Linked DNA regions of Homo sapiens: regions 1, 2, 4, 5 and 6 are each linked to region 3. The links come from fine-mapping of genetic effects on gene expression. A gene starts in region 3. Each other region holds a variant in brackets. All regions are shown on one strand. Distances are between the middles of the regions. Region 1 has its middle 25 kb from the start of KCNAB2. Region 2 has its middle 5.2 kb from the start of NPHP4. Region 3 holds the start of KCNAB2 (potassium voltage-gated channel subfamily A regulatory beta subunit 2). Region 4 overlaps NPHP4 (nephrocystin 4). Region 5 has its middle 15 kb from the start of NPHP4. Region 6 overlaps CHD5 (chromodomain helicase DNA binding protein 5).

Region 1 (5,072 bases), 25 kb after region 3:
TAATCCCAGCTGCTCAGGAGGCTGAGGCATGAGAATCACTTGAACCCAGGAGGCAGGGGTTGCAGTGAGCCAAGATCGCGCCACTGCCCTCCAGCCTGGGTGACAGCGAGACCCTGTCTCAAAAAAAAAAAAAAAAAAAAAAAGATAAGCAAAATGTGGCACACACATGCAAGGGAACATCCCTCAGTCATACAAAGGAAGGAAATGCTGACATATGGTACAACACGGATGAGTCTCGAGAACATTCTGCTAGGTGAAATAAGCCAGTCACAAAATGACAAATACTGTACAATTCCAATGATCTGAGGTCCCTAGAGTAGTCACGTGCCTAGAGACAGAAAGCAGAATGGTGGCCCTCAGGGGCAGGGGAGGGGGAATGGGAAGTTCCAGTTTAATGGGGACAGAATTTCAGTTTGGGAGAATAAAAAGGTTCTGGAGATGGATGGTGGTGATGGTAGTGCATATATTATGAATGTACTTAATACCGCTGAACTGTACACTCAATACCACTGAACTGTACACTCAATACCACTGAACTACACACTCAATACCACTGAACTGTACACTCAATGCCACTGAATTACACACTCGATACCACTGAATTATACACTCAATACCACTGAGCTGTACCCTCAATACCAACTAGCTGTATCCTTAATACCACCGAACTGTACACTCAATACCAATGAACTGTACACTCAATACCACTGAGCCATACACTCAGTACCACTGAACTGTACACTCAATACCACTGAACTATACACTCAATACCACTGAACTACCCACTGGATACCACTGAACTGTACACTCAATACCACTGAATTTACGCACTCAATACCACTGAACTAGACACTCAATACCACTGAACTGTACACTCAATACCACTGAACTACACACTCGATACCACTGAACTATACACCTAATACCACTGAACTGTACACTCAATGCCACTGAATGACACACTCAATACCACTGAACTGTGCCCTCAATACCACTGAACTGTACACTCAATACCACCGAACTATACACTCGTACCACTGAACTACACACTCAGTACCACTGAACCATACCCTCAATGCTACTGCACTTTACCCTCAATACCACTGCACTTTACCCTCAATACCACTGAACTGTACACTCAATACCACTGAACCATACCCTCAATACCACTGCACTTTACCCTCAATACCACTGCACTTTACCCTCAATACCACTGAACTGTACACTCAATACCACTGAACTGTACACTCAATACCATTGAACTGTACACTCAATACCACCGAACTACACACTCATACCACTGAACTACACACTCAGTACCACTGAACCATACCCTCAATACCACTGCACTTTACCCTCAATACCACTGAACTGTATACTCAATACCACTGAACTGTATACTCAATACCACTGAACCATACCCTCAATACCACTGCACTTTACCCTCAATACCACTGAACTGTATACTCAATACCACTGAACTGTACACTTAATACCACTGAACTATACACTTAATACTATTGAATTTTATACTTAATACCACTAAACTGTACACTTAAAAGTGGTTAAGATGGCACATTTTATATGTACCTTTACCACAATAGAAAAAACTGGGAAAAAAGAAAAAGAAAAAGAAACTTCTGCATCATGGAGTCAACAGCAGCTCCACATTTGGGTGTATGTGTTTAAGCCAAATATTTAAGCTGGCTCAATAAACATGGCACATGGTGGCTCGTGCCTGAAATCTCTGTAATCTCAGCACTTTGGGAGCCCGTGGTGGGTGGATCGCTTGAGCCCAGGAACTTAAGACCAGCCTGGGCAACATGGAGAAACCCTGTCTCTACAAAAAATAAAATAAAAAAATTAGCTGGGCATGGTGATGTGCACCTGCAGTCCAGGCTACTTGGGAGGCTGAGGCAGGAGGATGGCTTGAGCCTGGAAGGTCGAGGCTGCAGTGAGCTGTGATTGTGCCACTGTACTTCAGCTGGGTGACAGAACAAAACTTTGTCTCAAAAAATATATATGAAAATAAAAATTTTAGGCTGGGTGTGGTGGCCTTACAGGTTTACAGGTGGGATTACATGCCTGTAATCCCAACACTTTGGGAGGCCGAGGCGGGCAGATCACCTGAGGTCAGGAGTTCGAGACCAGCCTGGCCAACATGGTGAAACCCCATCTCTACACAAAAATTAGCCAGGCATGGTGGTGGGCACTTGTAATCCCAGCTACTCAGGAGGCTGAAGCAAGAGAATCACTTGAATCCAGGAGGCAGAGGTTGCAGCGAGCCGAGATCGCACTATTGCACTCCAGCCTGGGTGACAGAGCGAGACTCCGTCTCAAAAATAAATAAATAATAAAAATAGAAATTTTAAAAATGTGGTAGATACGGTTGCTGGCTGGCCCACCTGTCACCCATGACCCCTATATTTCCTGAATTTTCTTCCAGCTGGGGTGGCCTGTGGCGGTCCATAACCCGAGTCCAGGAGGGTGGGGCTTCGGGAAAATTCTGCTTGGAAAGGGACGCGATCCTGGTGTGTTCTTGTCATGGAAGAGGCTGAGTATCAGGTTCTGCTTCTGTTTTCAGCAGGGGTGGTGCTGGGGGCATCTCAGGCTGGATTGGGGGCAGAAGGTGGCAGTCTGAGAGGCTGAGGTGGGAGGCTGTACTGCAGCAGGTGGTCCTGACCACAGAACGAGATCCCGAGCCAGCCCTGTCTGGGGACCACCAAAATTCTTCTCCTTTAATGGGGACCTCACAGTGGTTCTCCTTATAGCTTCTAGCTATTTCTACAACATAAGG[A/C]TCAACGACCGAATCAATTTGCTTTGATGTAACTTCATTCCTCTGGGCCAGGACTGTGGGGAGGGGGCACATCCCCCAAGTGTTACCAAGATAACTAGGTTTACATGTCGTGAAGCCTCCGAGCATGCAGAGACGGGACCCCAGGTACAGGGCTCCGGGGGATGCATGACCCCCCTCCGCAAGACCTCCACCTGTGGGAAACTCTAGGCAGATCATCCCACTGGGGACAACTGAAATGACAACATGGTCCTTTGCATGCTGATTGGAAACCAGCTTCCTCATAACTTTCACCTGCTGGGCCTGCTCCGCCCTCCGGAGATTGACAACGAAGTGAGTCCCTCTGTCTAGGACAATCCCTGGAGCATCTGAGGACACCTGCCATAGCTCACCCCATCTACAACCGGGCCCTTTGTTCTTGAGAGCAAACCTTGCTTCTTTCCCTCCTTCCACACAAGGTTTCTGACTTAAGCCATGAATATAATTTTGGCCGACACTGTGCAGCACGTGCTGCACGTGGGCTGTGACACTGGACCCTCGCCAAACCTTACAGGCCAGCCTCGGGTTGGTGCTGTATCAGTGAAGACGCTCAGGTCGAGGCTGGCAAGCTGGGCTTTGGAGAGCAGGGAGTCCGGTGCTCCAGTGCCCAACTCCAGAGCCTTAATTAGCCATCATTCGGCACAGTTTCTCTCTGGAACATCAGCACCCTGCCACTCTCTTTTAATGGTGCTGATTCCTTCCTAAATGACAGAGGCACCCAGAACCTGAGCAACACTGCACACCGGCTGGCCAGCAGAGAGTGCAGTGTGACGGCTTCCCTCCTTGCTGTAGGACAGGGGTTGGAAAACTGCTGCGCCAGCCTGTCACCTGTGTTTGTGCAGCCCTCGAGCTAAGAACAGTTTTTACAGTTTTATTTATTTCATTTAATTTTTTTTAGGAGAAGGGAACTTACTCTGTTGCCCAGGCTGGAGTACAGTGGCATGATCACAGCTCACTGCAGCCTTGAACTCCTGGGCTCAAGTGATCCGTCTGCCTCAGCCTCCCAAGTAGCTGGAACTACATGTGTGTGCCACCACCCCCGGCTAATTTTATAATTTTTTATAGAGACAGAATCTTGTTATGTTGCCCAGGCTGGTCTCAGACTCTTGGCCTTACACTGTCCTCTTGCCTCAGCCTCCCATAGTGCTGGGCTTACAGGTGTGAACCACTGTGCCCAGTCCAATTTTTACAGTTTTAAACGAAAGAAAACCAAAAGAAGAATAACATTTCATAACACACAAAATTTATATAAAGTTCCCAATCTCAGCATCCATAAATAAAGTTTTATTGCCAGGTAGCCAAGCTATCTTGTTATCTTAGTGAGCTTGGGAATGCCATAATGAAATACCACAACCTGGGTGGCTGAAACAGCAGACGTTTCTGTCTCACGGTGCTGGAGGCTGGTAAATCCAACATCAGGGTCCTGGCTGATTTGGTTCCAGGTGAGGGCTCTCTCTTGCAGACAGAATTCCTTCCTGCTGGGTCCACACAGGGTAGGGAGGGAGCTCTGGCCTTTTCCTCTTCTTACCAAGGCACTAGTCCTGTCGTGAGGCCTCTATCCCAAAATAAAAAAAATTAGCTGGGCGTCGTGGTGCATACCTGTGGTCCCAGCTACTTGGGATGCTGAGGTTGGAGGATCGCTTGAGCGATCCCAGGAGGCCCAGGCTGCAGTGAGCCATGATCACTCCACTGCACTCCAGCCTGGGCAACAGAGCAAGACCTGAGCTTATCTAAACCTTATCACCCCCAGAGCCCCACCTCTTAATACCATCACATTGAGGATTAGGGCTATCAATCTTGGGGGACAGAAACATTCAGTACACAGCACCTATTTACATATTGCCCGGGGCTGCTTTCACGCTACTATGGCAGACCTGAGTAGTTGCAATAGAGACTGAATTTCCTGCAAGCTGAAAACATCGACTATCTGGTCCTCTATGAAAACATTTGCCTGGCTGGGCGCAGTGGCTCATGCTTGTAATCCCAGCACTTTGGGATTGGGAGGCTGTGGTGGGAGGATTGCTTGAGCTGAGTTCAAAACCAGCCTGGGCAACACAGTGAGACACCTTTTCTACAAAATTACAAAAAAAATTAGTTGGGTGTGGTTTACAGCTATGGGATTACAGGTGTGTGCCTGTAGTACCAACTACTTGCAAGGCTCAGGTGGGAAGACTGCTTGAGCCTGGCAGGTCAAGGCTGCAGTCGCCTATGATCACACTATTGCATTCCCGCCTAGGCA
Region 2 (5,072 bases), 48 kb after region 3:
AAAGGCAATACCCTCTAGGGGGTGCGGGGGGCTGGCTGAGCAGAGGCGGGAGGCGCTGCAGGATCTATCTAGACAGACAGGGCACAGGTAGGGCGTGCAGAGGGCCCAGATGGGGCACAGACAGAGTGCAGGCAGGGTGTGGACGGGGCACAGACAAGGTGCAGACGGGGCACGGACGGCGCAGACAGGGTGCAGAGAGGGTGCAGACAGCAGAGCAGGATATGGATGGGGTGCAGGCAGGGTGCGGACGGGGCACAGACAGGGCGCAGGCGGGATGCGGACGGGGCACAGACAGGGCACAGACGACACAGACAGGGTGCGGAGAGGGCGCAGATGGCGCAGGCAGGGTACGGATGGGGCGCACATGGGGTACAGACAGGGCGCAGGCAGGGTGCAGACACGGTGCAGATGGGGTACAATCAGGGCACAGGCAGGTGACAGACTCTGTATGGTCAGGAACAGGGTGGCGAGGACTGGCTCCTGTACTGACCCCTGGCCTCCTCTGCCGTGGGCAAGCACTCGGGCCATCAGTACCCCTGAACCAAACCACATTCCAAGAGGCCTGGACACTAACAAGGCGCCCTGCCACACACGGGAGGATGAAAGCACATCTCAGATTTGAAGCTCACAAAAGTGCAGCAGGTCATTCCAGTAGAATGTGGGCTTCACATGTTCCCAAGAATTACAGAAACCCCCGCAAAGCCCTTCTCGCCGGAGCTTTCAACCATCACAAACAGCTTCCTCGTGTGCTTCCTTAAGAAGTAGAGGTGGGCAGGTTCACTGACAGACTGAAACGGCTAGGGCTAGGGAGTGTTTCTCAAAGCATGTTCTTGGAACCCCTGATCTGAGTCACCAGGGACTGGTGGCCAAGGAGCTTGCTAAGCTGCACCAGGACCCCTGAGGGCTGGGCAGGTGCCACACCCTACAAGCCTGCTGGGCACACCGATATCTCAGGACCCTCGGCCCACCCAGGCCCCAAGACTCCACAATTCTTACACAGAACGTAAAGCACTACGCAGCCAACCTATGCAGGGCAACCAACAAGGCTAAGCCCCAGCCCGCAGTTCACGGGTGTCCCCAGAAATGCCCCCCATTAAGGCAGGAAATGGAAGAATGCGCCGTTGAAATCGTCTCTAAAGGGGCGGACGAAAGAGGGTGCTGCTGGCAGTTGCGGTTAAGCAGCAAAGCGGCTTCGTCTACGCCCGCCAGCCCCGGAGCCACCCTGTGCCCTCACCTTCCTTTTCCTCCTTTCACGGTCAAATCTCTCCAGAGCCATTGGCGGCAAAGTCCAAAGGTCACCAGGGTGGGACTCTGGCTTGGGGTCCTGGCTCCTGCGCCTAGTAGCTTGGAGGCCTTAGGGAAGCCACTTTGACTTTCAGTGTTTCTGCCTCAGTCAGATGGGTATAAGTTGGTTGGCGAGTGCTTGGAAGCTGGTGGTGCTGAATCTGGGGTCCTGCGCCCCCTCGCTGCTCCTGGGAGCCCAGCTCTGCTTCCCCTCTCAACAGAGGCTGCCTCCTTGGCAGCAGCTGGCCCACCGGATGCAGCAGATACCTGCCTCATCCTCTATTTTCCTCTCCTCCCCGGGCTCTGGAAGAATCCAGGGTTCCCTACTGTCTGTCTTGACCTTCATCTTCCCTCTCAAACCCGTACCCTTGGCGACCCTTGGCACTACCCCCAGGTGACACTGTCAGGGCTGTGACCAGTAGGTAGGTGGCAGTCACCTCCAGGTCCCACCTCTCCTGTGAACCCCAGCCCTACCTTCTCAATGTCAGTGGGCACTGCTGTCCAAGACACAGACCTCGAAACCCAAGGTCAACCGAGCCCAGTCCTCCCCATCCAGAGGCCCCGATTCTGGCTCTGCCTCTTTCAGTCTGTGCAGCCCAGGTGGACCCAGCCAGAAAAGCTTGGGGGGCTCCAGGGCTCTCCTCTTCCCTCCCTCCCCATCACTGTCCAGCCCATGGTGGCCTTGGCCCTGATGCCCTCCCCTAGTTATCCTATTCACCCATATTCATGCCCTAGCCTGTGACCGCACTGGGCCTCTGGCCATCATCCAGCCTGCCTGGTCCTCCCTCTGTGACCTTGCCCATGCAGAGCCCTTTTCCAGACCATCCTTTCCTAGCTCTGCCTATCACAACCTGCCTGTCTTTCAAGGTCCAGGTCAAATGTCCCCACTGCCCCCGTCTCTCCTTCCCTATCAGCAGGGTTTTCTCTGACCATTCCAGGCATGTGGTCACTGCATCCCTTTCCTGGGTCTCAGCCCTAGAGGAGGGAGGTGGGTCTTGCTCATTCTTGGTCCTTCAAATGTCTGCTGCTAAGACCTTCGCCCTTCACTGGCATGTATAGGTTTTAAGCAATGTTTTAAATTTAAATTTGTTTTATAATGAATAGATCGAGCTGAATCTCCTTGCCCATGCATTCTAGTTATTCCTTACCCTCCTGCATCTGGGAGGGGTGGCAAGAATATCACTTTCAGAGAGCCCCTGCCACGGCTGAGTGTTTGGGATCACAGGGCTCCGAGGCAGAATTCTAGAGTCTTCTGTCCTAGGCTGCATTGAGAGCCTGTGGATACCAGGGCCT[G/A]AGATTGCAATGAAAGATCATGAAGCTGCCCGGGGGTGGAAAATGAAAACACATTCATGGTGAAGGAGGGGGAGCATGCTCAGAGCATGGCTCTGCAACCCACTCGGTGCCCAGGGGCTGCTGGAATCAGACAGACAGGTGGGCAGGTGTGCAGTGGGGGTCTGGCAGGCTTGCAGGCCCTCCACGAGGCCCAAGGTCAGGGAGAATAGGGCAAGGAGTGTCCCTCCCTCAGAGGGAGGCTATTCCCTGCAGACCAGGGCAACGGGCTCTCCCCTCCTGCCCTCTCTTCCCCTTCCTTCCCTCCATCCTTCTCCACTGTGAAATCACTCAGCAGGGCTCTCCAGCTGAGAGACTGCCAAGAGGTCCCAGGAAACCACGCAGAAGGAAAGCCAGGTTCCTCTGCTCCGGTTTTCCTGGGGGCTCCGTTGGGCTGCCCAGGAACCACCTGAGCTCCAGGCAGGATGGTGGCTGGGGCGCCTCGTCCGACTGGAAGAGGGGGAACTGACAGTTATCCAGCACCCACTGTGTGCCAGGGAAGCCCCAGGCTCCTACCATTGAGGCACCAGTTCACCCATTCAGATAGAGGGAGACACGAATGATCCGTGTGGCTTAGCAGGCCAGAGAGCCAGAGACTCAGAGAGCTAAGTCTCTGGCAGGGAAACAGCCCAGGCTGGTGACTCAGGACCCCTGCGGACCAGACCTCAGGGGTCTACAGGACCCAGGAAGTTGCTCCAGAAAACTGGCCCACGTGGAATGGGTTGAATCTGGTGCGGGGTCTGAGAAGAAACCTGTGCCCAGCTCCCAGCCATGGAGTTGGATGATAGATCTCGGCTGCTCGGCAGTCAGGGCTCAAGATCACAGCCAGGAAAGCCTTCTCACTGGGTCCAGGTAAAGGCGGACGGCCAGGAAGGTGGTCCCCACCATTTCTCCACTTTTCCCCTTTTCCCAATCCTGTTTTGTCTACAACCAGCATGGCGTCAAAGCAGTTAGCTCTGTGGGTACCTGTGTGCTGGAGAAGTGGAGGAGGCTGCCTGCAAGGAGACAGGTGCCGGGGAAGCCGGCAGGGTGGGCATGGGGTTGCTCTGTCACTGAAGACACGCAGAACCTGGGTCTCTGGGGCTAACCATGTGGTCACTGCGCAGAGCAGGGAGTAGCCTCCTGAGACGCTGGCCAGCAGGGGTCTGAGTGGAAACCTGGGTGTGGCAGTGGCAGGGCACCCTCAGGCAGGGAGGGGCCTGAGCCCAGGGCTCATCCCATGGTGGGTGTGCAGGAAGAGGGAGGCTGGCCTTCATCTGAGTTCCCCAGGATGTGGCAGAGGACAAGAGGGCCCAGCATCTGCTCAGGCCCATGAGACAGGGAGTCTCACGCATCTGCCAAGCCCAGGCAGGCAGGAAAGCCTCGAGCCAGTGGGCAGTGACAGGACGAAGCCCAGGTGTGCCACCCCATCTCCCCCAGTGTGCTCTCTCCTGGGGAAGAGGGTCCTGTTCCCTTTGCCTCCTCGGGACTGGCTGAGCGGAGATGGTGTATCCCTTAATAGACTCACCCGAAGATAGACCAGGAGGGGCCTGAACATGGCGGGTCACCCGTCACCAAGGAAAGAGCAGTGTGGGGCTTCCCACGCCACGACAAAGGAGTGCTTCCATATCCCCCAGGGTCTGGGCCTGGGCCTCCAGGGCCTCTTGGGAGACTCACTCCTGCAGAGGTGAGGATTTCAGGCATTCGATGGAGCTCAGGTGATGGCGGAGGGGGCACCTCTCACAGAGTTCTGGCAGGGCAGGAACAGAATCAAGGTTTCCTCACTAGCTGGGAGGCCAGGATCAGTTTCACTGCTGCTCTGTGCCTCAGTTTCCCTATCCAGCCTCCCTCACAGGGTTGTTTACAAGTGCCGGAGGCGAACTGAGGTCATGAGTGTAGTTCCAGTGTGGGGAGGGTCCCTCCTTTCCTTCATCCCACCACGGACCTGGTGCCCTCACTCTTCTCTAACTATGGGGCCATCTCTTTGAAGGCCACGAACAACAGTACCCTTGCACCAGGGCCTGCATGCCAGGCAGGACTGAGTCGCTGAGAAATCTCCATGGTAGTGGCACCTCCCAGTCCCAAAAGCCCCTCCAGTGACCTGGACACACCCAAGGGCACTGGCTGCGCCCATGAATGTCAGCAATGCCTCCAAGTGGCCTTCTGAAGGGACAGCCGGTCATGTCCTCGGGGTGCTGGCTTCCCCCAGCTCGGACAGCCAAGGCATGAACTGGGCTCAAATAAGTAGGAAGTAGGGGGTCCAACCCAGCTCCGTCACTGCCTCTGTTGACCCTGGAGAAGCCTGTCCTTCCGTTTAGTCCTCTGAGAGCAAGGATGACCGGCTGCTGGGTGCCAAGACCCAAGTCCTCCTGGTGGTGGGAGGGGGACTGGCGGGAACATGGGGTCTATGGCCCTAGACACCTCTGGCATCAATCCTTCTCGAATTGCCGCCCCGAGCTGCCCACTGTCCTGCCTCCTTA
Region 3 (5,072 bases):
CTGGGTGGGAGTTGGTGACGCAGCCAGAAGACAGTCTGTTGGGGGGCGTGGGATAAGACACCAATTATGATAAATGCTGTGGAAAGAAAAATCCACCACCAGGGGCCAGCAGGCAGGGCGGGAAGGAACTTGTGACCACAGGTTTGAGTGAGAGGAGTGAGCCACACAGACACCAAATCTCCCTAGAAAATGCTTAAGGGAAGAGAACACAGATGTGAATAATCGCCCCCTTCACAACAAGATGGTGGAAGGCTGAGTTTGGGGATGTGAGTGGGAGAGGGGAGAGAGGGCAGGACAGAATGGGTTTTGTGGCCAGGATTTAGAGGGCGTCCCTCCCTGTGGGGGCCCGCTTGCAATCTTTCCTTAGAGCTCATGTTGCAGCCCTGGGAGCAGACCTGCAGGTGGGAGCCCTGCGGCACGGAGGGAGCCCAGAGCCTCTTGCTACGAGCTTGTCCCCATGGTGCCAGGGCAGGGCTTGGGCCAGGGAACTTGCGGGCACAGAAATGGCAGCCTTTGGCATGGGGTGGTGGGGTGAGGAGCAGGGCTGGTGCCATGAGGAGCCCATGGCCGCTGGACTCCCCTGAAGGTTGGGTCCAGGAGGGCAAGGACTCTTCTGCCTGCTGCCACTGCCCCCTGACCAGTGCCCACGGGAGTGTCCCGTGCACAGAGGAGGGGCTCAGATATTTGTAGAACAGTAACCAAGGCCCAGGCTCCAAAAGGCCAACCAGGGCTATACCTGGGCATTTCCTGGCAGTGCCAGGCAGCTGTTGGTGGGGGCGGGGCTGGCTTCCTACCTCAGACCCAGCAGCTCTTTGCAGGTCACCCTCTCTTGTGTGGGGGGGACTCCCATGCCAGGACTCTGTACAGCGGGGGCTCCCTGTGGTCCTGAAGGCTCATGACTCTGGGAGGGCTGCCCCAGGGGAAGAAGGATAGGTACAGGCAGAAGGCAAAGAGGCTCTGCCCGTTACCAGCGGTGCCTGGGGACAGAGGACACCTCTGGACTCCCTCACACTGGGGCTCTATTCTGGGCTTTTGCCGAGACTCTAGCAGCGTCAGGTCCTTGGACGAAGGGCCCCCCGGTAAGACACTGCAGGGAGGAGAGAGTGGCCCCACTGCCGGGCTCCTGCCTCAGGGTCCCCACTTCTCCTGTGCTCAAGAGCACAGTGACCCCTGACTTCCAATTCAAAATATCCCAAATCCCGGCCGCTTTCCAGAGTGAGGGTCTCTGAGCCCTGACACTCCCTCACCACCCTGGTACCAAGAAAAACGAGCCCCTCCTCAATAGCCATTGCTAATTACGTGGAACCCACAAGTTCTTTCCTGGGCTGGGCCTGCCTGGTGCAAATCTATTCCTGTAGATCAGGGGCCCAGGGGAATTCACGTGAATTAACACCGTGACATGGAAAAATGCAAGGAAGATGTTAACCTCATTAAGTCAGTAGGAATCACTACCTCACCCCAGACTCCTCTACCTGGAATTTCTGAATTGTTCTGTTTACTGAAAGCCAACAAAGCATACAACCTGAGATTGAGAAGGAACCCTGAGCATCTCTTCTGAATGGTGACACCTGTCCAGAGAGCAGAGAGCCCAGCCAGAGTTCTCCAAAGCGGAAATGGAAGGGGAGCTGCTACCATTCCGGGGTGCGGCTCTACAAGACACGGCATTGCTTCAGTGCAAACACAGAATGATTTTCGCTCAAGGACAATCAGCAAACTGAGGCCCAAACAAGCAGCCCCTGGCTCCCTCAGCACGTGCTTCCTGCACAGACATTTCAGACAAGACCAAACCTCCCTGACAGCGCTCTGGGCAAAACTGGAAAATGCTGAATCTTAATCAATGGTGAACACAGCGAGGTACGAGCTAGACGCCCGTGTCTCCGGCAGATGGGAAAACAGTCAGCCTTGGGCAGGTCTGGGCTGTGAGCAGACTCAAGCGAGAGGTGCTGCCCGGCTGAAACCTGCCGCCCACCACCCCATCCATCACGGTCATTCCAAGTTTACCTCAGGCTGGCTCTTTTTTAAGGTCTTCTGCTTTGCAAAAACACGGAGGGTCTAATTCCGGATCAGACAAAACCACCCCAAAATATGGTCTCCTCTGTTATTTTTCATTCCCGCGGATGCGTGCCCCCAAGCGGCATCTCCACTAGGAAGGTAGCGGCTGAAGGGAGGACTCACCTGCCTTCGTGGGGGCGTCTGCTCGTTAAAAAGGCCACAGTCTGGTTTATTAGGGATCACCAGACACTCTAAGGATCTGGCACAGCGGCTTTTTCATTAGGGAGTGTCACTGCAGGACGTCAGAAGCAATTGGTGAATGAGATGAGTCCCACCAGAGTCGAGTTTTGAGGCAGCGAGTCCATTAGTTCTATTAGGGCGTTTTCATCTCAGTGAAAGAGGCTGAATTATTCACGAGTGCCTCTTCCCCTAAAAGCTCGGGAAGTGCAGTTCCGTGCTGCAACCTGGCAAGGCTGACTCCCGGTGCGTGGGGTTGGGGTGCAGCCCAAGGTGAGGGGGAGGTCCTGCCCGTCCCTCAGGCCTACCCTTGCTGCCTCCACCATCCCCGCGTGCCAGAAACACAAACCTTTGGACCCACAGGTCGAAAGGGGCAGGCCTTGCTCTTTGGTATCTGAGTGCGGGACACAGAGCCTGTGGCTTCCGCATACCACTCAACTCTGAACTGTGTCTGCAGCAGGGGAGCTGGGGGCCCCGTCGTATGGGGCCACCACCCACAGCCAAGGGGGTCTGGAGAGGCCTCTGCTCAGCACACGCGCATGCTCCTCCTGTCCTCTGGGGATACACCCGAGATGGGTATATCTGATACTACCGGTAGCTATAAATGGCAGGAAGGCCCCAGAACCTGCTATTTGGACTCCACACTGCCACTCACTCCAGGCAGGGACACAGGAGCCCTTCTCCACGGCACATGTCCTGACCTGGGGTTTGGGAAATGCTTTGAGACTAGGCCAAACAAGGCTGAGCTCTGGGATGAGGCTAAGTGCTGAGCCCCAACCCCAGGGTCATGACCCCCAGGGTCACTGCGTGTCACAGGATGCCAGCAAAGTCCCAGCGTGACATCATCTTCCGGCTGAGAAAGCGCGCCAGTGAATGTGGGATTTTGAATGGAGGCAGAACCGTCCCCCCATGATGAATGAGCAAACAGTGGTAGCTGCCATGGGGGAAGGTGGGGGACAGGAAATCAGTGCCCCAGTCGCAGTGTGGAAGGTAAATGAAGTGGGAGGCTGGGAGAGCACGTAGAGTCTGGAGGTGCCTGGCTGCGGGTGACTAGCTGCGAAGGCCTTGGCAATTGAAATGGTTTGTCCCCAAAGGCCCAAGCCCACTCTGTCAGATCCCCACATGTCGCCCTGGTCGGGGGGCCTGCGCCTCACTACTGGGTGGTAGCTGCAGCCTAACATGCTCCGAATGAGGCCCTCTCCTTCCCTGGGTCCACTGCTCCTCTCTGTCCCTTTCTGTCTCAGCACCTGCCCATCAGTGGCCAAGCCCTGTGGACGTGGCTTCTGACGTCCTTTTTTCAGGCCCTGCACCCCTTCATTCTCTCTCTGTGCAGTTCCTGGAGCTCAGCCGTCCTGCACCTTTCCTGGGCACTGTCTGGTCTCCTTGCATTAGCCTCTCTCTTCCCTGTCTTACTCCCTGCTACCAGGCTTCCTTCCTAGAGCAGATCTCTGACCCCTGCCCTGCTCAAACACCATAGATGGCTCCCCAGTGCCCTCTGAGTGCATCTGTGCCCCATCGCTAGGCATTCGAGGCCCCCCACCAACATCCACCTCTACAGCCAGCCTCTCTTTATTCTCCATCATGTCCCTGATGGCCCAGGCTGGGTAACTGTCACTTCCTGTTCTCTGTGCACACCTCTGAGCTGTGGCTCAGGCTGTTGTATCTACTGGAATATGCTTCCCAGCCTCTGCGTTGAATCCTGCCCAGCCTTCAAGGACCAGATCCAAGCCCCTGCTGCCTTCTCCGTGAAGTCTTCTTGGCTCTCAGCTGGCTGTGGCCCCTCCTTCCTTGGACCCCAAATGCTCTTTGGGCTTCTCCTGTGACGTGCTCTGCCTTCTGGAGATCATCAGGGCTATTTGAGACCTGGGGTACATGGAAGTATTGCTCCCAATCCTTCACCCCTCTCTGTACCCATGCCCTTTGCCATGTGACTTTATAGCTCCTCCCACTGGTGGGGGCAATATATTTCCAGCCCCTTGACTGTGGGCTGGTTCCTGAGACTTACTTTGGCCAAAAGCACGTGAGCAGAGGTGACAGCGCTCTGACCCCAACCATAGGCCGTAAGAGACCCTGCATGTTTCTGCTTTTCCTCTGGTACTTTTGCCATGGGAAGGACATGCCTGGGGTAGGCCCCAGTTAAGCATGGGAAGATGGAGGACATGGGGATCCAACTTGCAGCTTGGAGACAAACCCAGCCAAGCCAGCTTAGACGAGCTGCCTGGTCAACCCGCAGACACGGGAGCAAGGAAGAGATGCTGATTGCTGCGTGGCACTGAGTTTTGGAGTTGTTTGTTATGCAGCACTTGGTGGACAGCTGATTGGCACAGTGTCCTATGCCAATTCCTTGCCTGGGAGCTGCATGGGGGCAGGGCACATGCCTTGAACGCCTCTGCCCTGTGAGAGGGCCAGGCCTAAGTAACTGAAAGAACCATCCAATAGCCATGTTTAGTGGTATGCTTGGTGTGATGAGGGTGCCCTACTAGGAGTGGCCCCCAGCCTGTTAACAAACAAAGACCCTAGCCCTTAGAGGTCATCTCCAGAGCCCCCACAAGAGACACCCAAGTGACCCCCTGGAGATCCAACGGGTAGGATGGCCAGAGCCTGTGGGCACCAGAATTGGGGCTGAGAGCCTAGAGGGTAAGCTTCAGAGCTTCCCTTGGGGCCAGGAAGGCCACCTGGAAATGAAGGTTCTTAAGCACAGGGATCCCGGCGGGGGGGACAACATGTTGAGCCTGTGGGGTTTTGAGGGCCTTGAGTGGGCTGGAAGGCTCTCACTTGGTCACTGGATAATTTACTTGGCCCCTCCTAGGGGCAGGCCCTTGGAGCTGGATGGTCTGTACCTG
Region 4 (5,072 bases), 170 kb after region 3:
TGGAGTAGCTGCAGGCTGGCTGACTCCCCGGCATGGGGGTGGCCCCTTCCAGGCCTGAGATCTTGCAAGGCAGCCTCTAGTGGGCCTTACTTTTTCTTGTAAGTCCCACAGGAAAAACAGGCCAGTCTCCAACCTGTAGAACCCATGTGTGCTGGCCAAGCCCCTTGAGTCCCTGCGGCATCAGAGCAAGGGGGTGGCTGAGCCTTGCTGAGGCAGCGTGCTGCTTGCCTGGACTCTGACCCGGTGTGACCGAGACTCAGCAGGCCGGGGGCATGTCCTCTCCTGTGGACGCTGGGCCCAGGCAGGGCTCCCAAAGTTGTGTTGGGGACCTGGCTGGTGAGGCCTGTCACCATAGTTTTGAGGCCATTCTTTTCTCTTGTTTGAAACTTCTGATTCTCCACCGTGCGGGGGGCCAGACTCGTGTCTGTGAAGAGTCTCTCAGGAATAGGCAGGGATGCTGTGTGGACCTCCGTGTCAGGGACACAGCCAGCAGATCTCTGTCCAGCACTGCCTGAGATCCATGCCTGGGCGGGGCCGGCCAGTTCCACCCAGACCACATGGTCAAGGAAGGGGGTGGTGGTGGCGATGCTTGTGGAGAAATGTCCTCTTCTGAGATCGCGGGTGGTGGGCAGCCAGCAATAGCCCCTTGTGGAGGAGAGTGTGCCTGGGACCCTGTCCACCCATGTCCTCTTGTCTGCAGGCGCAGCAGAGCGTCCGCACACAGCACTTGCGGGACCTACAGGTCATCGCCGCCTACCGGGAACGCACGAAGGCCGAGAGCATCGCCAGCCTGCTGAGCCTGGCCATCACCACGGAGCACACGCTCCACGCCACGCTGGGGGTCGCCGAGTTCTTTGAGTTTGTGCTTAAGAACCCCCACAACACACAGCACACGGTGACTGTGGAGATCGACAACCCCGAGCTCAGGTGAGGTCTCAGTGGTGCCCGTCCTGCCCCAGCCCAGATCTGTGTCGGGTGCAGCCGGCACCCCTGCTGAGCTGGCTCGAATTCTGCCCGAGAGCCGGGGCGATTTGACTTCTCTCTCCCACTCCTCTGAGCACCGCTCTCGGTGGGTGGGACCGCAGCCTCCTGTGGGTCCTCCTGGGAAGAACTGCCCTGACGCCTGGACACTGCCTCCCCCAGCGTCATCGTGGACAGTCAGGAGTGGAGGGACTTCAAGGGTGCTGCTGGCCTGCACACACCGGTGGAGGAGGACATGTTCCACCTGCGTGGCAGCCTGGCCCCCCAGCTCTACCTGCGCCCCCACGAGACCGCCCACGTCCCCTTCAAGTTCCAGAGCTTCTCTGCAGGGCAGCTGGCCATGGTGCAGGTGCGGGTGTCAGGCACACAGGGAAGTTGCATTTGGCTGATGACGGTGGGAAATTGAGAATGCTTCCAGTCTCCACCAGTGTCCCTCCCTTACCTGTGCAGACAGACTAGCCTTGGGGCTGCCGCCCACTCCCCTTGGTGCTCAACAAGAGCCCTGGCATGTACACTGCAAGTGGCAACCAGCCCCTTCTCTTTTCCAGCCTGATGGGTGTCGAGCTGGACCATCTCCTCCTAATTTTCTTTACTAAGTTGGTTGGAAGGGCTTCTTAAAGCCCAGTGAATCTAATGGATTGACGTTTTCTAGCATCTTCTTTCCAGTTAATGTTGTTTGGTCCCTTCCGACTGCAGCACTGTCTGCTCTATGCAAGATGCAGCTTTGCAGGCATGTGTGCGGGGAGCATGCGTGCAGGGAGCATGTGTGCAGGGAGCGTGCGTGCAGCAGGTATATGTGCAAGAGGTATGTGTGCAGGATGTATGTGAGGTGTGTGTGCAGGGGCGATATGTGAGGTGTGTGTGCAGGAGGCATGTATGCAGGGTGTGTGTGAGGCACGCGTGCAGGAGTTGTGCGTGTAGGGGTCTGTGAGATGTGCAGGGAGTGTGTGAGGTGTGTGCAGACATGCAGTTGTGTGTGTGCAGGGAGTATGTGAGGTGTGTGTGCAGGTGTGCACTTGTGTGCAGGGGGTGGTGTGTGAGGTGTGCCTGCAGGGGGTGTGTCATGCCCGGGTGCGTGAGGCCGGCATGGGGTGTGGAGTGTGTGTTTCAGCTTTTGACCTTTTGGGGTCAGCTCTCTAGGGTGGTGGTCATCGCTTAAGGTGGACTTGAGATGTCCCTAGAGGCTCACTCACAGGATGCCATGCTGGCTCTTGGGATGGGCTGTGAGGACTGCAGGTGGGACCTCAGGCCTTTGGCTTCAGGCAGAGCCGGGTTTCCACCTGGGATCTGCTGTTCCCTTTGTTCCTGGCAGCCTCAGCCTTCTCTGGCACAGTGAGGCCGGTTGGTGATGGTTGCTGCCTGGAGAGTCAGTGTGAGAGGAGGCTGGTGGCTCCCAGCTGGGTGGCAGTGGTGTCTCTAAGCACAGGTGCTGGTCGCCTAATGGTGTTGCTTCCTGACCTGCTTGTGCTGTTCGGTTCCTGCAGGCCTCTCCTGGGTTGAGCAACGAGAAGGGCATGGACGCCGTGTCACCTTGGAAGTCCAGCGCAGTGCCCACTAAACACGCCAAGGTAAAGGGGCAACGGAGGACAAACTGATCTCGGGGCTTCCTGGGTATTCCCAGGGCCTGACCCTTGTGTCCTTCTCTCCCCTCCTGGAGGGGAGGGCTGGGGCCAGGTCAGGGCAGGGGTGGCGTGGGCCTGGGAATGGCCTTTTCCGTGTCCTCGCTGGGCAGGGCAGCTCCGTCTGGGCGCTGGCACAGCCTGCATGGTATCTGGTCGGAAATGCCTCCTTGGTGGCCGCCTTCTCACAGCCCAGGGCTCTCCGGGTGTGAAGCCGCAGTTCCCGTGGTGGCTGCCACAGCCTGCGGCCACTCCTTGAGCCTCACGCAGAGCATTCCCTGGTGTGTGAGTGTGTGGTGTGGTTCTTCCTGGAAATAAGACGTAGTCCTTGGTTACGTCCCTTGCTAAGCGAAGGCCGTATAGTAAGGCACCTGCTTCTCAACAGCTGGCTGAGACATTCTCAGGAGGAGCTTGAGACACTGCTGCTTTATGGCAGTTTCTGAAGGTTGTTTTTTATTCGGTAGAAACATGCCTT[T/A]TGTAGTAGTTGGGAAGTGAAAAACAAAATTAAAAAGCTTTGGTCTTTCTTACACATTGCCTGGAGGACAGAATTCAGAGTTCAGCGCAGTCCTGTGAGGCTGTGGCGTTCCCGTGGCCCGGGTCTCACTGTGGTTGCAGCCTGGCCCTCTGTGTCCACCGGGCCCCATCACCAGTGAAAACTTGCTTTATTTTATTTAAGTGTGCAGCCACAGCTTTGCCTTGATCTAAGGAATGTATCTGATCTTTATTGAGTGCTCTAGGTTAACGCTTTTTCCTTACATGAGTGGGAAGTCCCAGCCATCGCGTCCTGTTGCCAAAACCGTTGGGAGGAAGGTTTTCCTCTGCTAGCTCAGGTCTGAATGGTAAGGGCTGCAGGTGGATGACCGTAGACAGAGGGACAGCAGCAAAGACGGGCCTTACCGTTGTGAGCCCGTGGCAGCATTGGGAAGTGAGTAGCTTGCCAAATGCCCAGAGGTCGAGGTTTCTGTGCCAATGTAGCACAAAGGGGGCGAGGGCCAGGGCCTCCGTGGGAAGACGGGGACATTCTGTTGTCTCTTTATGCTGTGAGCATGGCCAGTCTGTGACCTTCCTGGAATTTGCAGGATGCTTTCACTTACACTTTCACATAGGGGTTTAATGGCAGCTGCACTTTCAGGTGGCTGTGCACTAGTCAGATAAGGAAAGTTCAGGTAAGATTTCTTTTCACCTTAAAATAATCTTTACGTCAGAAATATGATCTCTTCACATGAATTTGGAGTTTGAAGGGAAATCCTAGACACTGTGTTAGTTTACCCATAATTACTGCAGTGTGTATCTCTGACTGATAAGGACTTTTCTTTTTATCATGACTGCATGCTGTTGTTGCTGCCCCCAGTCAACGCAGACCTCGGCATCGTCTGCTGGGGCTGTAACCACGGGCCTTTCTACCACTGGTGCGTTTGGATCAGGACCCGCTGTCCTGGGGTGCTCCGCCTCTGGAGTTGCTCAGTGGGCAGACCACGTTGTCCATGAAGGCCACCCACAGAGGCCATGCTGGCTGTCACCGTGCTCAGGTGCTGATGGCCTGATGCCATCACCCGTGTCTCCCTCACTCGCATCCAGCTGAGGCTCCTGGCCCACTGCGTGTTCCATCCAGGGTGGAAAATGGTGAAATTGCAGTCCTGTCATTCTTCCTGTGATCTTTCTACAAACAAGGACTTTCCCGATCAGCAGTTTGGTTACCCTAAAATATACTTTGTACTTGAAAGTGAGGATGAATGTTAGAATCATTCCCTTTATCAATTTTCAAATAAATGAGCTGCGTCCTAGCAGCCTCCAGAGACAGTCCATGTTTGCGGCGTCTCATGATGGACACCGAGGCGTTATATTTGTATTTCTCATCCCATGGAGGCACCGCTCTTAGACGCTGGAACTGCCCTCTCTCAGGCCACCGCCATCCTTTTCAAGTTAACTCCTGTGCCTTTTTTAAATAACAAGTAGTTATTTTGAAATAATTTAGAACTTAGGGAAGAGTTACAGGAAGAGTGCAGAGTCCCCACATAGGGTTTTCCCAGACTTCCCGGTCACTAACCTTTGCCATGTTTGCCTCGCCACTCTCTGTTTGTGCATTTTTCTTGAACAATTTGAGAATAAATTATCAGGTAATGCCCTTTACTCCATGACACTTCGAGCTGGGTTATCTTGAAAATAAGGCCACTGTCCTCTGTGGTCAAAGGAGAGCCATGAAAATTAGGGAACTGACGCTCCTCTTCTGTCATCACAGGCCCCATTCACATTCACAAATGTCCCAGCACTTGATAGATGGCCCGTCCAGTGGCCCCCACCAGCCTGCTGCCCATGGAGTCCTTCTGGCGTGGCTGCAGCTGTTGTGAAGTGCACAGGCGGTTATCCTGCAGGGCGTGCCCAGTGGGGCTGGTCTGGTGTTCGTTTCAGTTAGACCCAGGTTATGCACTTGGGGCAGGACCTCCACAGACATTTGCCGTGTCCTCTACGAAC
Region 5 (5,072 bases), 39 kb after region 3:
GCCAGGGAGAGAACAGAATCAGGCTGGACAGTGTGTTCCAGGCCAGTCCTGGCAAGAGGCTTTGATGGGGTCTAGACAGGGGACGTGCATCTGAAGGTGTGTGTGCAGGTGTGTGCATACACATATGCACACGTGTGCACACATACACGCACACGGACACCACCGGGCCCCCTCCACCCGTTAGCCAGCCTGCTTATGGTCTGCTGCCTGCTCATGTACCCAGCGATCTGCTGGGGAGAGGCCACACTCTGCACAGGTGGATGCCCCCATGGGCATACCAGGCGGGCCTCCTGCCGCTCTGGAAAGCAGATACTCCAAGGGATAGGTGCAGAGCAAGGCCCAGCACCCCTACAGAGGGCGGGGTGGCCAGGGGGACTTGGAGAGCTGCATAGTGGTGCTGGGTGACCCTAGCTCATGTCCCGAGATGAGAATGTCCAGTCAGGGACCACTTCAAACAGAGGCTCAGAGCGTGGCCTGCAGCTCCTGGGGGAGAAGGGTTGGACTGTGGGGTGCAGTGCACCCAGGGGCACTTTTGCTTTGCTCTTTCTGGCCTGGACGTGTCCAATTTCCCTGCTTTACAGCTTTCACTGAGGCTGCTCCCAGAGGAATGGGCAGGGCTGCTCTGGGGTCTCACTCTCCGCCCAGGCCAGAGGCTTCAGACATCTCCTCACTCAGGCCCAAGGCCTGAGGTTCCCACGGAAACAAGTCCCCCAGGTGACCTCTCCCCATGTGGCGCAGGAGGTCACAGCATGAGACCCCAGGGGCCTGGGACAGAGCTCTGGGGTGGTGGTTCGGGGGCCTCACTCCCTCAGCCACTTCCCTGATCACAGCCTTGTTTTCATCATCTGCTGCAGTTCTGTTGATACCAGGAGCATTTCTCAGCCCATGTTGGTGTCCTGAGTGATCCTTTTTTTTTTTTTTTGAGACAGTCTCGCTCCGTCTCCAGGCTGGAGTGCAGCGGTGCAATCTTGGTTCATTGCAACTTCCACCACGCCACCCGGGTTCAAGCAATTCTCTTGCTTCAGCCTCCCGAGTAGCTGGGATTACAGGTGCACGCCATCATGCCTGGGTAATTTTTGTATTTTTAGTAGAGACGGGGTTTCACCGTGTTGGCCAGGCTGGTCTCGAACTCCTGACCTCAGGTGATCCGCCCACCTTGGCCTACCAAAGTGCTGGGATTACAGGCGTGAACCACCGTGCCTGGCTCTGAGTGATTCTTAAAGAGGATGAACAGAGGAACGAGGGAAGCCTGTCCTGGATGCTGGCTGCTCTTGGGCATGCAAGCCACTGTCAGGGTGATGGGGGGGCGGGTCCTTTCTGCCATGGGGGACCCAGCGCAGCGGAACCGGACTTGGCTCACCATCTGCCTCGTGAAATCCAAGCCCTGCCCTTCGCAACATGGAGAAAACAATCTGTGGGTCTTAATGGCCCAGCTCCAGGTTCGCCTCCCCATTGGTGCAGGTGAGGGGATGCCTGATGAAGTAGTGCTCCTGGCCCTCACTCATCAGCTCCCTCAGAGGGAGCCATGTCAAACCAGACAGCTCCAGGCAGCATCTGCAGGCCACTTTGAACTGAGGGGAGCCAGACCCCACCACTGCCCCTGCCTCAGCGTCTCCAGCCCCTCTCAGGGCTGCGGCTGCAGCTGCCTCTACCTGGCTGCAGTGCCAGGGAGAGAAGGAGCCTCTGCATCTGTTGGGCTCATCAGTGAGGGCCAAGGGAAGCGGCGGGCACAGGGACGGGAGGGGAGGTTCCAGGTTCTCTTGGCCATCCCCTCCTTCGGGGGTAAGGGCAACAGTGACGCGCACACACTGCGGCGCCCAGCTTCTCCCACTCCTTTCCAAGCATCCACAGTAAAAGGAGATAAAGGAAATGCTGAGTCTCCTCTCAGAGCCAGATTGAAATTTTAAGTGAGCCAAGGTAGGAAAATCACACAGGGGGATGGGGCCACAGCAAGAACCACTTCCGGATGATGACTGCGTTTCAGAGCCTGACTCAGCACGGCGCGGGGCGCAGAGGAGGCGCGGAGGAGGCGCAGAGGTGGCGCGGCTCCCCACGGATGGAGCCGCTCTGCCTCCGGCTCTGGCTCCAAGCTGCTGCCTCGGCTTCCTGGGCAGAGGGGGTGGGTTTTAACTTCTTAAATCCCAGGATGGGAGAAGGAAGAAGAGGCCAGTGTCCTGGTGTATACCAGATGAGCAATTTCAGAGAGATCATTGCTTTACATGGGGTGGCCACGCTGGCATTTAAGTGGTCTCTTGGCCACTTGGCCCTGTCCCTGGGTGTGGCTGGGGTCCCCACCTCTCTGGAGCCTGGCACAAACTCACACCCAGGAGCTGAGCCCCCCCCATGCAGTGACTGGGCAGGGAGGCC[C/G]GGGCAGTAACTATCTGGGGAGTGGTGGCGCTCCCAGCTCGCCTGGCTGATATGAGTCTCTATGGCAGCCTCGGAGAGGTCGGACTGTCCGCCACAGGGACAGAAAGCGCTGACTCTCGGCCAGCCCTGAGCAGAGACACTCTGGACACTGAGTCCAGCCAGGGCCCGCTGCTGGGCTTAAGCACAGTGCCCAGCACAGAATAAGGCGAACTGTTTACCGTCCTTCCCCAGAACCCAGTGCTCATCTTACACAGGCTGCTGTCTGATCCCTCGACAACAGCTCTTATCATTGTATTTTAGGTGGGTTTCAATCACGGCCCTTGGAAGAAGTTGAGGGGAAAGATTGGTTCCACTTGCACAGGGGAACTCAGAGCCCAGAGGAGGGATGTGGTCAGGTAGCGCTTCTGACAGAGCACTGAGGGGTGAGGGTGGAGTAGGGGAATGTGGGAGCTGAGCTGAGGAGTGAGGGTGAAGTGGGGGATGTGGGAGCTGAGCTGAGGGGTGGAGGGTGAAGTGGGGGATGTGGGACCTGAGCTGAGGGGTGAGGGTGGAGTGGGGGGATGTGGGAGCTGAGCTGAGGGGTGAGGGTGAAGTGGGGGGATGTGGGAGCTGAGCTGAGGGGTAGGGGAGGAGTGGGTGATGTGGGAGCTGAGCTGAGGGGTGGGAGTGGAGTGGGGCTGAGGGGTGAGGGTGCAGTGGGGGGACGTGGGAGCTGAGCTGAGGGGTGAGGGTGGAGTGGGAAATGTAGGAGCTGAATTGAGGGGTGAGGGTGGAGTGGGGGGATGTGGGAGCTGAGCTGAGGGGTGGGGGTGGAGTGGGGGGACGTGGGAGCTGAGCTGAGGGGTGAGGGTGGAGTGGGAAATGTAGGAGCTGAGCTGAGGGGTGAGGGTGGAGTGGGGGGATGTGGGAGCTGAGCTGAGGGGTGAGGGTGGAGTGGGAAATGTAGGAGCTGAGCTGAGGGGTGAGGGTGGAGTGGGAAATGTAGGAGCTGAGCTGAGGGGTGAGGGTGGAGTGGGGGGATGTGGGAGCTGAGCTGAGGGGTGAGGGTGGAGTGGGGGGACGTGGGAGCTGAGCTGAGGGGTGAGGGTGGAGTGGGAAATGTAGGAGCTGAGCTGAGGGGTGAGGGTGGAGTGGGGGGATGTGGGAGCTGAGCTGAGGGGTGAGGGTGGAGTGGGAAATGTAGGAGCTGAGCTGAGGGGTGAGGGTGGAGTGGGAAATGTAGGAGCTGAGCTGAGGGGTGAGGGTGGAGTGGGGGGATGTGGGAGCTGAGCTGAGGGGTGAGGGTGGAATGGATCAGAACATCAGAACAGAGCCCCAGGGTGCCAGCCCTGGGACCTCCCTCCAGTCACAGCACCCGTGGTCCCTGCCAGGGGAAACTCCGGCCGGCATCCTGGGCAGGGAGACCCCCATCTGCCCCAATGGGAGGCTGTGCCCTGTCTCCCCACGTGGGGGCCCTGCATCCTCACAGTGACCGCTGGGAAAAGACAGACCTGGGCTTCCGTGCCTCCCCGGGCCACTAAACCCATCTCTCTGAGCCAGGAGGGTGTGCTGCCTTCCAACTACAAATACACCAGCAGGAGGGGAGAGAGGGGACCCAGGTTGGATCCCACTCCTACTCATGGGGGGTAGGGGGGACCCTCAGTCGGCTCCAGGTCCACAGGCTGGCTTCCTACCAGGTGTGCTCCAAGGCCCTCAGCTGGGCTGCCACGTCCCCGCCTCCACCCTCACCCCTCAGCTCAGCTCACACAACCCACAACTCCACCCCCACCCCTCAGCTCAGCTCCCACATCCCCCAGTTCACCCTCACTCCTCAGCTCAGCTCCCACATCCCCCCACTCTACCCTCACCCCTCAGCTCAGCTTCCATGTCCCCCACTCTACCCTCACCCCTCAGCTCAGATCCCACATCCCCCAACTCCACCCCCACCCCTCAGCTCAGCTCACACGTCCCCCTACTCCACCCTCACCCCTCAGCTCAGCTCCCACATCCCCCCACTCTACCCTCACCCCTCAGCTCAGCTCCCACGTCCCCCCACTGCACCCTCACCCCTCAGCTCAGCTCCCACATCCCCCCACTCTACCCTCACCCCTCAGCTCAGCTTCCATGTCCCCCACTCTACCCTCACCCCTCAGCTCAGCCCCCGCGTCCCCCTACTCCACCCTCACCCCTTAGCTCAGCTCCCAGATCTCTGCCTGCACCCTCATCCCTCAGCTCAGCTCCCACATCCCCCCACTCCACCCTCACCCCTCAGCCAGCAACACTTGTATGCAATCCCTACAGAGGGAAGGAACTGTCTGATGAGGAAGAAGCAGCCAGACTCTGGAGGGAGACGGGGCTGGAGGTGGGACTCGGGGGTAGAAACCTATTGTGTGGGGTGGACTGTGTTCCCTGAAAGATCCACCCAAGTCATAATCCCAGTTACCTGTCGATGTGGAATTATTTGGCAAAAGGGTTTTTGCAGATGTAATTAAGGTGGAAATCCTGCGATGAGGCCATCCTGGATTAGGATGGGCCCTAAATCCAATGACAAGTGTCCATATAAAAAGAGGAGACAGACACAGAAAAGGCCATGTGGCGATGGGGGCAGAATCTCGGGGGGGTGTTTCTACAAGCCAAGGAACACTACGGGCAGCCACCAGGAACCAGGAGCGAGGCCTGGAACACATGCTACCTCGGTCTCCAGAGGGAACCAACCCTGCCCACAC
Region 6 (5,072 bases), 72 kb before region 3:
GGCATGGTGGCTCACACCTGTAATCCCAGCACTTTGGGAGGCTGAGGCAGGTGAATTACCTGAGGTCAGGAGTTCAAGGCCAGCCTGGCCAACATGGCGAAACCCAGTCTCTATTAAAAATACAAAAATTAGTTGGGTGTGGTGGCATGCACCTGTAGTCCCAGCTACTCAGGAGACTGAGGCAGGAGAATTGCTTGAACCTGGGAGGCAGAGGTTGCAGTGAGTGGAGATCGTGTCACTGCACTCCAGCCTGGGCAACAGAGAGGGACTCAATCTCAGAAAAAAAAAAAATATATATATATATAATACACACATATATACATATACACGTATATATATACGTATATATGTACGTACATACGTACGTATATACGCACATATGTACGTATGTACGCACGTATGTACGTACATATGTACCTATATATGTACGTATATATACACACACGTATATATATATGCGCATTAGGTCAGTAGATAATGCATGCTAATTATATTGTTCAAGTTTTTAATATCTTTACTAGTATTTGGTTTGCTTTGATCAGTCAGTTTCTGAGAGACTTGTGTTAAAATCTCTCATTATGATTATGGATTAATCTCTTTCTTATAATGCCAGATTTTGCTTCATATCATTTGAGACTGGGTTGTCAGGTGCATATTTGTTCAGGTTTTTAATATTTTTCTTGTGAAGTGTGCTTCTAATTATTGTGTAATAACCCTCTTATCCCTCTTTAAAGTTTTTGCTTAAAAGTTTATTTTTGGGCCAGGTGCGGTGGCTCATGCCAGTAATCCCAGCACTTTGGGAGGCCGAGGTGGGCAGATCACAAGGTCAGGAGTTCAAGACTATCCTGTCGAACATGGTGAAACCCGTCTCTACTAAAAATACAAAAAAGTTAGCCGGGCATGGTGGCGAGCGCCAGTAGTCCCAGCTACTTGGGAGGCTGAGGTCGCACCACTGCACTCCAGCCTGGGTGACAGAGCGAGATTCCGTCTCAAAAAAGAAAAAAAAAGTTTATTTTTGCTGATTTGGGTTGCTCTTTCTTTTGTTTAGTATATATTTGTTACGCCTTTTTCTATTCCTTTTTTTTTTTTTAAGATAACAGCTTTATGGTGATATAGTTAACATATCATACAGTTGAGCCATTTAAAGTATACCATTCAGGTCGGGCATGGTAGCTCACACCTGTAATCCCAGAACTCTGGGAGGCTGAGGTGGGTGGATCACCTGAGGTCAGGAGTTTGAGACCAGCCTGGCCGACATGGTGAAACCCTGTCTCTACTAAAAATACAAAAATCAGCTGGGCGTGGTGGTGGGCACCTGTAATCCCAGCTACTCAGGAGGCTGAGGCAGGAGAATCACTTGAACCTAGGAGGCAGAGGTCGCAGTGAGCCGAGATGGCACCACTGCACTCCAGCCTGGGCAACAAGATCGAAATTCTGTCTCAAAAAAAAAAAAGTAATGAAGTATACCATTTGTTATTTTTAGTACATCCAGAGTTGTGCAACCATCACCATTATCTAATTCCAGAACATTTAATCACTTCAAAAATAAATTCTTCTTACCCATTGGTAATCACTCCCCATTTCTTCCTCTTCCTCCCAGCCCCTGGCAATCACTTCTGTCCTATGGACTGGCCTATTCTGAACATTTCATACCAATGGAATAATGCAGTACTTTGGCCCTTTGTGTGTCTTCTTTCACTTAGCATAGTGTTTTTAAAGTTCATCTATGTTGTGGAATATATTAGTACTTCATTCCTTTTTTTTTTTTTTTTTTTTTGAGACAGGGTCTTGCTCTATCACCCAGGCTGGAGTGCAGTGGCATGATCTTGGCTTAACTACAGCCTTGACCCCCTGGGTGCAAGCGATCTTTCCACCTCAGCCTCCCAAGTAGCTGGGACTACAGGTGCACATGCTAACACGCCCGGCTAATTTTTGTATTCTTTGTAGAGACGGGGTTTTGCCATGTTGCCCAGGCTGGTCTTGAACCCCTGGACTCAAGCAATCCTCCCACCTTGACCTCCCAAAGTGCTGGGATTACAGGCAGTACTTCATTTCTTTTTATGCCCAAATAATATTCCATTGTATGGATCTACTATGTTTTGTTTTGTTTATCCATTCATAGTGATACACATTTGAGTTGTTTCCACTTTTTGGCTACTGTACACATTTGTGTACACATTTTTTTGTGTGAGTCTAGGTTTTCAGTTCTTTTGGGTATATATCTAGGAGTAGAACTGCTGGATCATATGGTAATTCTCTGTACCATTTTGAGAAACTGCTGAATTGTTTTCCATGTGTATTGCATCAGTTCACATTCTTACCAGCATGTGTGAGGGTTCCAGTTTCTTCACATACTTGCCAATACCTGTTATTATCTGTCTTTTTGATTATAGTCACCCTAGTGGGTGAGAAGTGGTATCTCATTGTCATTTTGATTTGAGTTTACTTTGTGCATAAAGATGTTGAATATTTTTTCATGTGATTATGGCTTATTTGTGTATAATTTGTTGAAGAAATGTCCTTTCAGATCCTTTGTCTACTTTAAAATTGGATTTTTTTAAATTATTGAATTGTAAGAGTTCTTTTTAA[A/G]TTAATTAATCAATACTTTTAGAGACAGGGCCTTACTATGTTGTCCAGGAGGGCTTTGAAGTCCTGGGCCCAAGTAATTCTCTAGTATTAGACTTTTGAGTAGCTAGGATCACAGGCGTGTACCACTGTGCCTGGCTTGTATGAGTTCTTTATATAGATGCATGTTCCTCATCAGATATATGATTTACAAATATTTTCTTTCATTTCTTCACTTTTAATCTCTTTGTAATGTTTTAGGTCTATCTTTTGTAGACGGTGTATAGGGGATTCATCATTTAAAATCTAATTATAGGGTCCCTATCTTTTAGCTGGCAAGTTTAATCTCTTTACATTTGTTGTAATAACTAGATATGTGGATGGAATTCTGTTATCTTATTTTGTACTTTATATATTACCCTTCTCTTTTCTCCTTTTTTCTCTTTTCCTGCCATCTCTTGGATTGATCAAATTTTCTTTATATCTCCTCTTTTCCCCCTCAACTCATTTGGAAGGTTTATAGTCAATTTCATTCTGTACTCTTAACATTTTTAACATGTATACCCCTGAGTAATATGAGGACTTTAGATAGCTTTAGCTCTAACTCACTTCCCTTTCATCTGCCACGATGCTGTTGCCCAGTATTTTAGTTTCAGTTTGTTTTTACTTTCCCAAATTTGTTGTTATGCTTATTTCTAAATTTTTAATCCTTTTTTAGATCTTCTCACATTCTTACCAGTTTGTGTTTGCCTATTTGTTCATCATTGCTTCATTCAAAGTCCTTCCTAAAGTACACCTTTAATGGTGCTTTCAGCAATTTTTTTGGGAATGGTAAATTCTCTCATTGTTATTTTTCTTTTACTCTTGAATAGTTAGTACAATTGAAGATGGGATAGGGATCTTCCCTCAGCACTTTGCAGATATTCTTCCTTTTTTTATTTGGCATTCATTATGCTGAGAAGGCTGCTGAGAAGCTGAGAAGGCTGCTGTTGGTGTAATTGCTGCTCCTGTCTAGGAAGTTTGTCATTTCTATCTTTTCTCACATTGAAAGACTGCTTTGAAGACATTCTCTTTGTCTTTGGTGATATGTAGCTTCACTACAATGGAGGGTATTTTTTGTTTTGTTTTTAGAGTGAAGTTTTTGTTTATCTTGTGTGTGACTCACTGTGATTCTTAAAGCTGAATATTTATGTCCTGCATCAATTGTGGGAAAATTCTCAGTCATTCTCTCTTTGAATATTTTCTTTGCCCTCATTATGTTTATTTTGTCCTTCTGGAATTCCTATTACTCATTGATTGGTTCATTCATCCAACAAACATATATATACACACATGCATATATATATATATTTTGAGCCTGCTGAGTGTCAGATGCTGTCCCAGGCACTGAGGACACAAGCAATGAACCAAAACAGCTGAAAGCTTCATTCCGTGGAGTTTGTATTCCACTGGGGAACACAGGCAATCCACAATAAACAGAAATACGTGTTGTTCAACCACAGACTCCAAATGCTCTAAAGAAGAAAGCAGAGTACAAGGTTAGCAAAAGATGGGGGCTGATAAGTTTTCATATCTTTTGCTTCTTTTTTGTTATCTATTTCTCTGCCAGGCTTTTTGAGTAATCTTCAGATCCAGCTTCCATGTATATTTTCTTTGCACAGCTGTTTTTTAAAACCTTCCCAGTTGTATTATTTTGCATGGCTGTGTCACAAATTACTGCAAACTTAGTGGCTTAAAACAGCACTCACCATGAGCTCACAGTTGTGTGGGTCTGATGCCTGGCGTGGTGTAGCTGGGTGTTCTGCTCAGGATATCACAAGGTTCAGGACATCAAAGTATCGAGTGGGTTGAGTTCTCATCTGGAGGCCCTGGGGAAAAGTCCACATCCATGCTCACTCCTTGTTGTTGGCAGAATTCAGTTCCTTGAGGCTGGAGGACTGAGGTCCCATTTCCTTGCTGGCTGTCAGCTGGGTCCGTTTTCAGCACCTGGAAGCCACCACATTCCTGCCATGTAGCCTCGTGTGTCTTCAAGCCAGCAGTGGTGAACAGAAACCCTCCCGTGCTTCGCATCCTTGACTTCCTTTTCTGTGACCAGCCAGAGAAAAGGGCTCGTGTGGTCAGGTTAGGCCTACTCAGGTCATCTCCCTGTTTTAAGGTCACCCGTGCCGCAAAACGGAACCTGCTCTGGGGAGTCGAGTTTGTCCTCTTCACCTTCCAGGGGATCTTGCAGGGCGTGGACACCAAGGGCCGGAAGTCTTGGAGCCCATGTTGGAATTCTGCAATTAAATTCTGCAATTAAAATGTTAATGATTGTGTGTTTCCTTTCTTTTTTTTTTTTTTGAGACAGAGTCTCTCTCCCACCTCAGCCTCCCAAGTAGCTGGGACTACAGGCACCCGCCACCACGCCCGGCTAACGAAGTCTGGCTAATTTTTTGTATTTTTAGTAGAGACAGGGTTTCACTGTGTTAGCCAGGATGGTCTCGATCTCCTGATCTCGTGATCTGCCC

The links.
Region 1: its variant is fine-mapped to the expression of KCNAB2 in whole blood (TOPMed, PIP above 0.99).
Region 2: its variant is fine-mapped to the expression of KCNAB2 in whole blood (TOPMed, PIP above 0.99).
Region 4: its variant is fine-mapped to the expression of KCNAB2 in whole blood (TOPMed, PIP above 0.99).
Region 5: its variant is fine-mapped to the expression of KCNAB2 in whole blood (TOPMed, PIP above 0.99).
Region 6: its variant is fine-mapped to the expression of KCNAB2 in whole blood (INTERVAL, PIP above 0.99).

Annotation. Positions count from the first base shown.
Region 1 is chr1:6,017,951-6,023,022 of GRCh38, reverse strand. It overlaps a transcript of KCNAB2 not described here. Among named protein-coding and RNA genes, the nearest start is that of KCNAB2, 25 kb to the left of the region's middle. The variant A/C (reference allele first, on the strand shown) is at 2,798.
Region 2 is chr1:5,995,133-6,000,204 of GRCh38, reverse strand. It overlaps a transcript of KCNAB2 not described here. Among named protein-coding and RNA genes, the nearest start is that of NPHP4, 5.2 kb to the right of the region's middle. RefSeq lists enhancers at 1-219, 220-934. The variant G/A (reference allele first, on the strand shown) is at 2,578.
Region 3 is chr1:6,043,287-6,048,358 of GRCh38, reverse strand. It overlaps KCNAB2 (potassium voltage-gated channel subfamily A regulatory beta subunit 2), which reads right to left and starts at 2,471. Exons shown (of 16, transcript NM_001199862.2): 1 at 2,176-2,471.
Region 4 is chr1:5,870,729-5,875,800 of GRCh38, reverse strand. It overlaps NPHP4 (nephrocystin 4), which reads left to right. Exons shown (of 30, transcript NM_015102.5): 21 at 701-927; 22 at 1,144-1,330; 23 at 2,466-2,549. Among named protein-coding and RNA genes, the nearest start is that of MIR4689, 11 kb to the right of the region's middle. The variant T/A (reference allele first, on the strand shown) is at 3,076.
Region 5 is chr1:6,004,473-6,009,544 of GRCh38, reverse strand. It overlaps a transcript of KCNAB2 not described here. Among named protein-coding and RNA genes, the nearest start is that of NPHP4, 15 kb to the right of the region's middle. RefSeq lists an enhancer at 343-935. The variant C/G (reference allele first, on the strand shown) is at 2,368.
Region 6 is chr1:6,115,084-6,120,155 of GRCh38, reverse strand. The region is part of intron 33 of CHD5 (chromodomain helicase DNA binding protein 5); the gene reads left to right. Among named protein-coding and RNA genes, the nearest start is that of CHD5, 63 kb to the left of the region's middle. The variant A/G (reference allele first, on the strand shown) is at 2,590.